Homo sapiens: one gene and its partner. The protein of the gene in region 1 purifies or fractionates together with the protein of each later gene. This does not show direct contact. Each region holds a gene or a part of one and is shown in the gene's direction. Other genes may lie near its edges.

The links.
Region 2: the proteins of SRSF4 (region 1) and ZNF70 purify together in Homo sapiens (affinity purification with mass spectrometry; one large-scale study listed by BioGRID and IntAct). This does not show direct contact.

What each region holds. Positions count from the first base shown.
Region 1 is NC_000001.11:29,157,901-29,161,400, reverse strand, and holds part of SRSF4 (serine/arginine-rich splicing factor 4), read left to right. Parts: intron 1-605; exon of another isoform or gene 606-839; coding exon of another isoform or gene 840-883; coding exon 884-1,026; intron 1,027-1,390; exon of another isoform or gene 1,391-1,537; intron 1,538-1,914; coding exon 1,915-2,027; intron 2,028-3,500. UniProt on the Homo sapiens protein: Plays a role in alternative splice site selection during pre-mRNA splicing. Represses the splicing of MAPT/Tau exon 10.
Region 2 is NC_000022.11:23,748,313-23,752,610, reverse strand, and holds the start of ZNF70 (zinc finger protein 70), read left to right. Parts: upstream 1-1,498; 5' UTR 1,499-1,900; intron 1,901-4,298.

The sequences.
Region 1 (3,500 bases):
TGGTTTTTAAATATAGGCAATGGTCACAAAGCTGGACTTTTCACAGCTGTGTCAGACCAAACTAAATATTTCTTGAAAACATAATTTACAGGGCATTTGTATAACCTTGCTTATAAGTATCTTACAAATTTTGCACTTTAGCTATATAAATTGTACTCTTTAATAGGCATTAGTAGGATGGTGGGGGTTCTTTTGGTTATATGTTAAGCCACCAAACCTCTTGGCTGGAAAAGATGTAGCAATACCATTTAAAGAAGTTTGCACGAGTTGTATACAGATTTCAGAGAATTCCATCCTATTCTAAAACTTCATGGAAATGAATTTGGAATCTCACAGGGAAGTAAACAGCTCCAGTCTTTTTTTCACTGATAATCACATGTGACAGATGTGTTTACGTAGAGGAACAGGAACCTTAAAAAAAAGTTTTTTACTTTCACATGATTCAACAGTTATTACACAGTGCCTGAATGTAGGTCTAATTGTTCTCTAAGATACCACTTTTAAAGCTAAAAAAGATGAGTTTTATGTGGTGTTTGAAAGAGCGTTATATGTCTTGTAGCATTATATATTTTGGATTCTTATACCAAGCATCCCTGTCTTTGCAGTTGCCACCAACTACTTGGGAAACAAAAGAAGTGTCCTGTGTATGTAGCCAGCCTCCTCCTAGAAAGATAGGAGTCTACTTTGAGAAGTCTCCCTACCTCTTTCAGTGCCTGTTGGCACAAAGCAAAGTGGTTTCACCTGAAGAGAAGACAAAGTTGATCCTTAGTTTGCAAAATCCACCTAACCTTTGCTAAGCATGAACCTCATTGCTTTCTCTTTAATGTTAGTGAAGCTGGATGTCAAAATGGTACCAACCAGTATTTTCTTTGCTCTCTTCTAGATATGGTTTTGTGGAGTTTGATGATCTGCGTGATGCAGATGATGCTGTTTATGAACTGAATGGCAAAGACCTTTGTGGTGAGCGAGTAATTGTTGAGCATGCCCGCGGCCCACGGCGAGATGGCAGTTACGGTTCTGGACGCAGTAAGCATTCAAAGGGCATACTTTTATCAGTAACGTGCTTTTGTTATCATGCTAATTTTTAAAGTAATTAATTGATATTACATTTAAACGTATTGATGTTTAAGCTATTTTGTAAATTATGTATCTTTTTTAAAAATGTAGAATTACAAATAAGCCTTTGATAATGTTTAATTTTAATTAAACTAATGACAATTTCTTGTTTATAATACTTTATAAATATGTTTAATGATGTGTGTTTGTGTTGTTGTTGTTTTTTTCTCTGTAATGCAATTGTTTAACATAGATTTAACAAAGACCTCAATGTTTTAATTAAAAGAATCCTTTGAGGCTAAGATGACTGCCTGTTCCATTTGCTGACCTTGGGTTACCTTTCCATGCGTGGCTCTTTGAACCATTGTGGCCCTTGGCTGACCAAAAACAGGAAGCCATGTGACGACCGCAACCTTTCCCCATTAGACCTGGGTGGTGAGGATCCCAAGGGTTAGACACAGATGAGATTAAACTGAAATAGGTGCCTGAAAATCTTTTTTTTTCCATATAAAATATTCACAAAATGTTTAATCACTGTGAGTAACACCAGTAACTGATTTAGTAATTTGGTTACTTATTTCTAAATTGTTAAATTGTTAATAGTTTTAAATTTATGCATGTTAATCTTAAATGCAAATATTAATGAATATGTATACTTACAACTTTTTAAATTAAATGTTTATATTTAGCTGATTGCTTCTTTAAAAATCTATTTTAGAATTAAGGGTGGGAATAGAGTTAAAACGTGCTATTGTTTGGGGTGGGGGTAAATAATATATTTAAGGGGGGGTGTGTGCTGTGTCATTTTTTTTCCTTTTCTTCCACTGAAATAATCTTATTTATTTGAACCTTCCAAAGGTGGATATGGTTATAGAAGAAGTGGCCGAGATAAATATGGCCCTCCTACTCGCACAGAGTACAGACTTATTGTGGAGAATTTGTCAAGTCGGTGCAGCTGGCAAGACCTAAAGGTTTGGGCCCCATTAACCTTTTGGGGTAAGGTTGGGCAGGAGTTAAAGTTGGGAAACAGGTAGATTTGTGCAGGCCCAGGCATACACAAAATACAGTGTTATATGTTTGAAAGCCTGCACAGAGCTGGAAATAATTAAAGTGCCATATGAGTACAAAATATATCAGAATTATATTCCTGCTATACATTGTGGGACCATCATTCTAAGGACACATTTGTGAGTTTGGTTTGGTTTGGTTTGGTTTGGTTTGGTTTGGTTTGGTTTGTTTGAGATGGAGTCTCGCTGTGTTGCCCAGGCTGGAGTGCAGTGGCACCATCTCTGCTCACTGCAGCCTCCGCCTCCCGGGTTCAAGCAATTCTCCATCTCAGCTTCCTGAGTAGCTGGGATTACAGGCACCCGCCACCATGCCCGGGTAATTTTTTTGTATTTTTAGTAGAGACGAGGTTTCACCATCTTGAACTCCTGACCTTGTGATCCACCCGCCTCAGCCTCCCAAAGTGCTGGGATTACAGGCGTGAGCCACCGCGCCCGGCCTGATTTTGTTTTGTTACAGAGTCTCTGTTGCCTAGGCTGGAGTGCAGAGGCACAATCATGGCTCAGAGATTGGTTGTCACTATGTTACCCCGACTGGTCTCGAACTCCTGGCCTCAAGTGATCCTTCAGTCTCAGCCTCCTCAAGTGCTGACATGACAGAAACCTGGCCCAAATGTGTGATAACGAAATTTCTCTCTGTAAAGAATGTTTGAAACCCTGTCTCTACTTAAAAAGATACAAAAATTAGCCGGGCGTGGTGGTGGGCACCTGTAGTCCCAGCTACTTGGGAGGCTGAGGCAAGAGAATTGCTTGAACCTGGAAGGTGGAGGTTGTAGTGAGCCAAAATCATGCCACTGCACTCCAGCCTGGGCAGTAGAGCAGGACTCTGTCTCAAAAAAAAAAAAAAGGGTTACAAGAAGATGGCAGTGTAGCTACTCACCAGTCAATAAAATGGTTGAAACCATCAGTGTTTCCTGCAGCATTTGCTATAACATGCAAATTCACATCAGCTTCAGTGTGTATCCTTACTGGTGAAATTGACAATCTGACCCATGTTTTTTCATAAGGTTTTTGATGGAATATTTGTCCTGAAAGAGGTTTGGTGTCAAGAATTAAGATTCAGTGCTAATGTTGGCCATCCAGTGTACTGGTTCCAGCTTTTTTTTTTTTTTGAGATGGAGTCTCGCCCTTTCGCCTAGGCTGGAGTGCAGTGGCGCCATCTCAGCTCACTGCAACCTCCGCCTCTGGGGTTCAAGTAGTTCTGCCTCAGCCCTCTGAGTAACTGGGATTACAAGTGCATGCCACCATGCCCGGCCAATTTTTGTATTTTAGTAGAGGCGGGGTTTCACCATGTTGACCAGGCTGGTCTCGAGCTCCTCCTGACCACAAGTGATCCACCTGCCTTGGCCTCCTAAAGTGCTGGGATTACAGGCGTGAGCC
Region 2 (4,298 bases), on another chromosome or scaffold:
GCACCTGAGACTATTGGGGCATGGCCCAGACTCCCCCACCATGGCCCCCTGGGGGCTCAAACTGGTAGCCTGACCTTCCTGTGACCTGAGGAGCCGGAGGGAGAAAAAGGAACCAGCCCTTGCCGCCCCCAACTCTGCATGGCTGGTTATGGTCCAAGGGTTATGGCTCTAGGGTGGCTGGTCCCCATGGAGCTCAGGCTGTTGGCTTGGGGAGGGGCAGCCACTGCCTACCCCTTGGAGTCTGTGCCCAAGGCCCGACAGAGCATTAATGGGGCAGGAAGGCAGGTGTGTGTGGGTAGCATTGGAGGCACTCGAGCGCCAAGGCTGAGGGTGCTGAAGGCAGGTGGGCGGCTGGGGCAGAATCCTTTTTCCCAGGGACAGTGTGTTCTCCTGATGTCCTGTGATTGGGCCAAGGTCTGCGGAGGGAAGCTCTCCCACAAGCTGGGCAGCTGCACCTGAGGGGGGGGTGTCATGGGCAGAACACTGGGTGGAGGGGCCAGTCTTGCCATCAGCAGCAAGGAGGGGGCGGAGATTCCTTTTCTTTTTTTTTTTTTTGTTTTTTGAGATGGAGTCTCGCTCTGTCGCCCAGGCTGGAGTGCAATGGCACTATCTTGGCTCACTGCAACCTCCGCCTCTCAGGGTCAAACGATTCTCCTGTCTCAGTAGCTGGGATTACAGGCGCTTGTCACCACTCCCGGATAATTTTTAGTAGAAACAGGGTTTCACCATGTTGGTCTGGCTGAGTCTCGAACTCCTGACCTCGTGATCCACCCGCCTCCGCCTCCCAAAATGCTGGGATTAAAGGCGTGAGCCACCGCGCCCGGCCAAGGGGGCGGCCATTTCAAGAACACATTCCTCTTCCCTCCCGGTGCGCCTGAGAGGAGGCGCTTCATGTCGAAGTCAGCCCTGGGATGCAGAGAGTTGGGGGGCTCAGGGTCCTGGGATGGTCTCGCAGACACTCCTAGTTCTTCGCCTGCCCCTTCTCATCTCTATTTCTGTGGGGGCGGGGAGGGCAGACAGGAACAGGGCTACCCTTGAAGCAGGTTGGGGGAGGGGGATCCTAACAGGACCCCGGTGCCTGTGGACAGTGACAGGGTCGACAGCTCTGGGGCTCCACTCTCCTTTCCCTGAAGACCCCAGCTGCCTCAGTGGCTTCTGGCTTGCACCCAGCACCAGCGCAGATGCCCCGAGTGCCGGCGGCTCGAGGTCGGCCCGCCCGTCCGGACCTGTTTCCTCCTCTGCTCTCCTGCCAACGCCTGCCCATCTCTGTTTCCCCCACGTCCAGCACGCGCTTCGGGGACGGCCAGAGCCACCATGCCGACTGGAGAGACTCTCCTGATTCGGGTCCTTGTGTCCCGGGGCCCGGGCGGCTTCGCGCGGCGACAACCGGCGCGGTGGGACCACCGAGACGCCGGGACCTCCGCGCGGCCTAGAGTGGTCCCGGAAGTGCCCGCGGGCCGGGGGCGGGGCTCTGGGTGCTCGGGCGGCCGCGGGCTCCGCGTCAGCAGCTGCTGTGGAGCCAGGCAGCGTCGGCCGCGTCGGCCGCGGGTTGGAGCAGCTCAGGTGCGGCCCCGCCCCGCCCGCCTGCGGCCCCGCCCCGGCCCAGGTGAGCTGCCCCGCCCCGGCCCAGGTGAGTGGCCCCGCGTCCGCCGGTGTGACCTGAGTCCGCCTGACCACCTGTCCCTCCGGTGGCCCTGGGTGTGCGTGTCCCCAATCGCGGGGAAGCCTGTAGGGGCGCCACGTCGCCGCCTGGGCAGCGTGTGCGGGTCCGTGGCAACTCTTGGGCCCCCAGCCAGGAAACCTTGACTGCACTAAGAGTTTGCAGGGTGCCCAGGCCCTAGGGACTCTCTGGAGGATGGGATGACAGATGCAGGAGGACCCGGAGAAGGCCCCGACAGAGGTGGGAAGCATGGAGTTCCAGATCTTTGCATTTTCGGTCCAAAAACACTTATCATGTTGTGGGAGACAGATAAAGGGTTGCCAACTTTTTTCTGAGTGGAGACTTCAGGGTGTAGGGGCTATATAGTGGGAATGGAAAACCTCTACGGAGGGAAGTTTGAGAACACCAGGACTTAATGGGTGGGCGGAGGAAGAGTTGCAATCTAAAGATATCAAGAAAGAGAACTTGGAAGCCATGAAAATTGGGAAGAAAGCGAGGGTGGGGATGGGGTTGGGGGGTAGCTCAAAGCTTTCATGCACCTAGGTAGGCAATGTGGGCGGGTGAAGGGATATTGTCACATCTTCGTTTTTCAAGAGAAAGCCAGAAACCTACTGAGTTTTAAATATTGGTAACTAAGGAAAATGAACAGGAAAAGCCAAACTCTTCGAGAGCCAAACATAACATAGCAGGATCTTCAGGCTGCCAATTTGCAACCTCTGAAATGAAGGGTTTTGAGAAGGAGGTATTGGAGAGCAGTGCCAGATGGGGTGGGAAGGTGAAGACCGAGAAGAGAGGGATTGGCAATAAGGAGGTCATAGAATGCCAGAGCTGAGGTCCCAGCTGAAATCGGAAACTCGAAATTTGTCGTGGTGCCATACATAGTTGTATGATTTTTCTTGGCAACATTTAACAACTTAGGAGGAACTGGCCGAGAAGACTGGGACTTAGCGGCTAGTTGCAGCCGGACGAGGAGGTGAGGAGCATGGTGCTAGAGCGTGAGAGTTGAAGTGATGCGCATAGTATGGAGAGTCTAAGCTGGATGGAGAAGGGGTGGAGCTAGAAAAGGAGAACTACAGTAAAAATGGCTTGGATTTCATGAGGTCGAAAAGCACAAATTGAGTGAGAGAGCTGGAAGAGTTGGAGATTATGGGTTGCTGAAGAGGAGGGGGAGGGTGAGAGGAGTTGAAGTGATCAAAGAATTTTTGAAAATACTTTAGGGCTGGGCGAGGGGGCTCACGCCTATAATACCAGCACTTTCGGAGGCCAAAATGGGTGGATCGCATGAGCTCAGAAATTCGAGACCAGTCTGCACAACATGGCGAAAACCCATCTCTACAAAAAATACAAAAATTAGCCAGGTGTGGCACGTGCCTGTAGAGCCTGTATTCCCAGCTACTTTTTTTTTTTTTTTTTTTTTTTTTTTGAGACGGAGTCTCGTCCTGTCGCCCAGCCTGGAGTGCAGTGGCGCGATCTCGGCTCACTGCAAGCTCCGCCTCCTGGGTTCACGCCATTCTCCTGCCTCAGCCTCCCAAGTAGCTGGGACTACAGGCACCTGCCACCACGGCCGGCTTTTTTTTTTTTTTTTTTTTTTTTTTTTTTTTTGAGATGGAGTCTCGCTCTGTTACCCAGGCTAGAGTGCAGTGGCGCGATCTCGGCTCACTGCAACCTCCGCCCCCCAGGTTCAAGCGATTCTCCTGCCTCAGCCTCCCGGAGTAGCTGGGATTACAGACGCGCTGTAATTTTTGTAATTTTAGTAGAGACGGGGTTTCACCATCTTGGCCAGGCTGGTCTTGAACTCCTGACCTCATGATCCACCCACCTCGGCCTCCCAAAGTGCTGGGATTAGAGGCGTGAGCCACCGCGTCCGGCCTTTTTTGTATTTTTAATAGAGACAGGGTTTCACCGTGTTAGCCAGGATGGTGTCCTAGCTACTTAAGAGGCTGAGATAGGAGAATCACTTGAACCCAGGAGCCAGAGGTTCCAGTGAGCTGTAATCACACTACTGCACTCCATTCTGGAAAAAGAAAATACTTTAGTTCAGTGCTCTTTTTTTTTTATATCCAGTCGGTCTATTGGCTGAAAAATCATTTAAAAAAATCATTTCTGGGCTGGGCGTGGTGGCTCACACCTGTAATCCCAGCACTTTGGGATGCCAAGGTGGGCGGATCACCTGAGGTCAGGAGTTCGAGACCAGCCTGGCCAACATAGTGAAACCCCATCTCTACTAAAAATACAAAAATTATCCGGGCCTGGTGGCGGGTGCCTGTAATCCCAGCTATTCAGGAGGGTGAGGCAGGAGAATTGCTTGAACCCAGGAGGCAGAGGTTGCAGTGAGCCGAGATTGGGCCATTGCACTCCTGGCTGGGCAACAAGAGTGAGACTCCACCTCAAAAAAAAAAAAAAATCATTTCTGCTGGGCATGGTGGCTCATGCCTGTAATCCAGCACTTTGGGAGGCAGAGGTGGGAGGACTGCTTGAGCCCAGGAGTTCAAGACCAGCCTGGGCAACATAATATTATCTCATCTCTACAGAAAAATTAAAAAATTAGCTGGATGTGTTGATATGCCCCTGTAGTCCCAGCTACTTGAGAGGCTGAGGTTGGAGGATCAGTTGAGCCGGGGAGGTCAAGGCTGCAGTG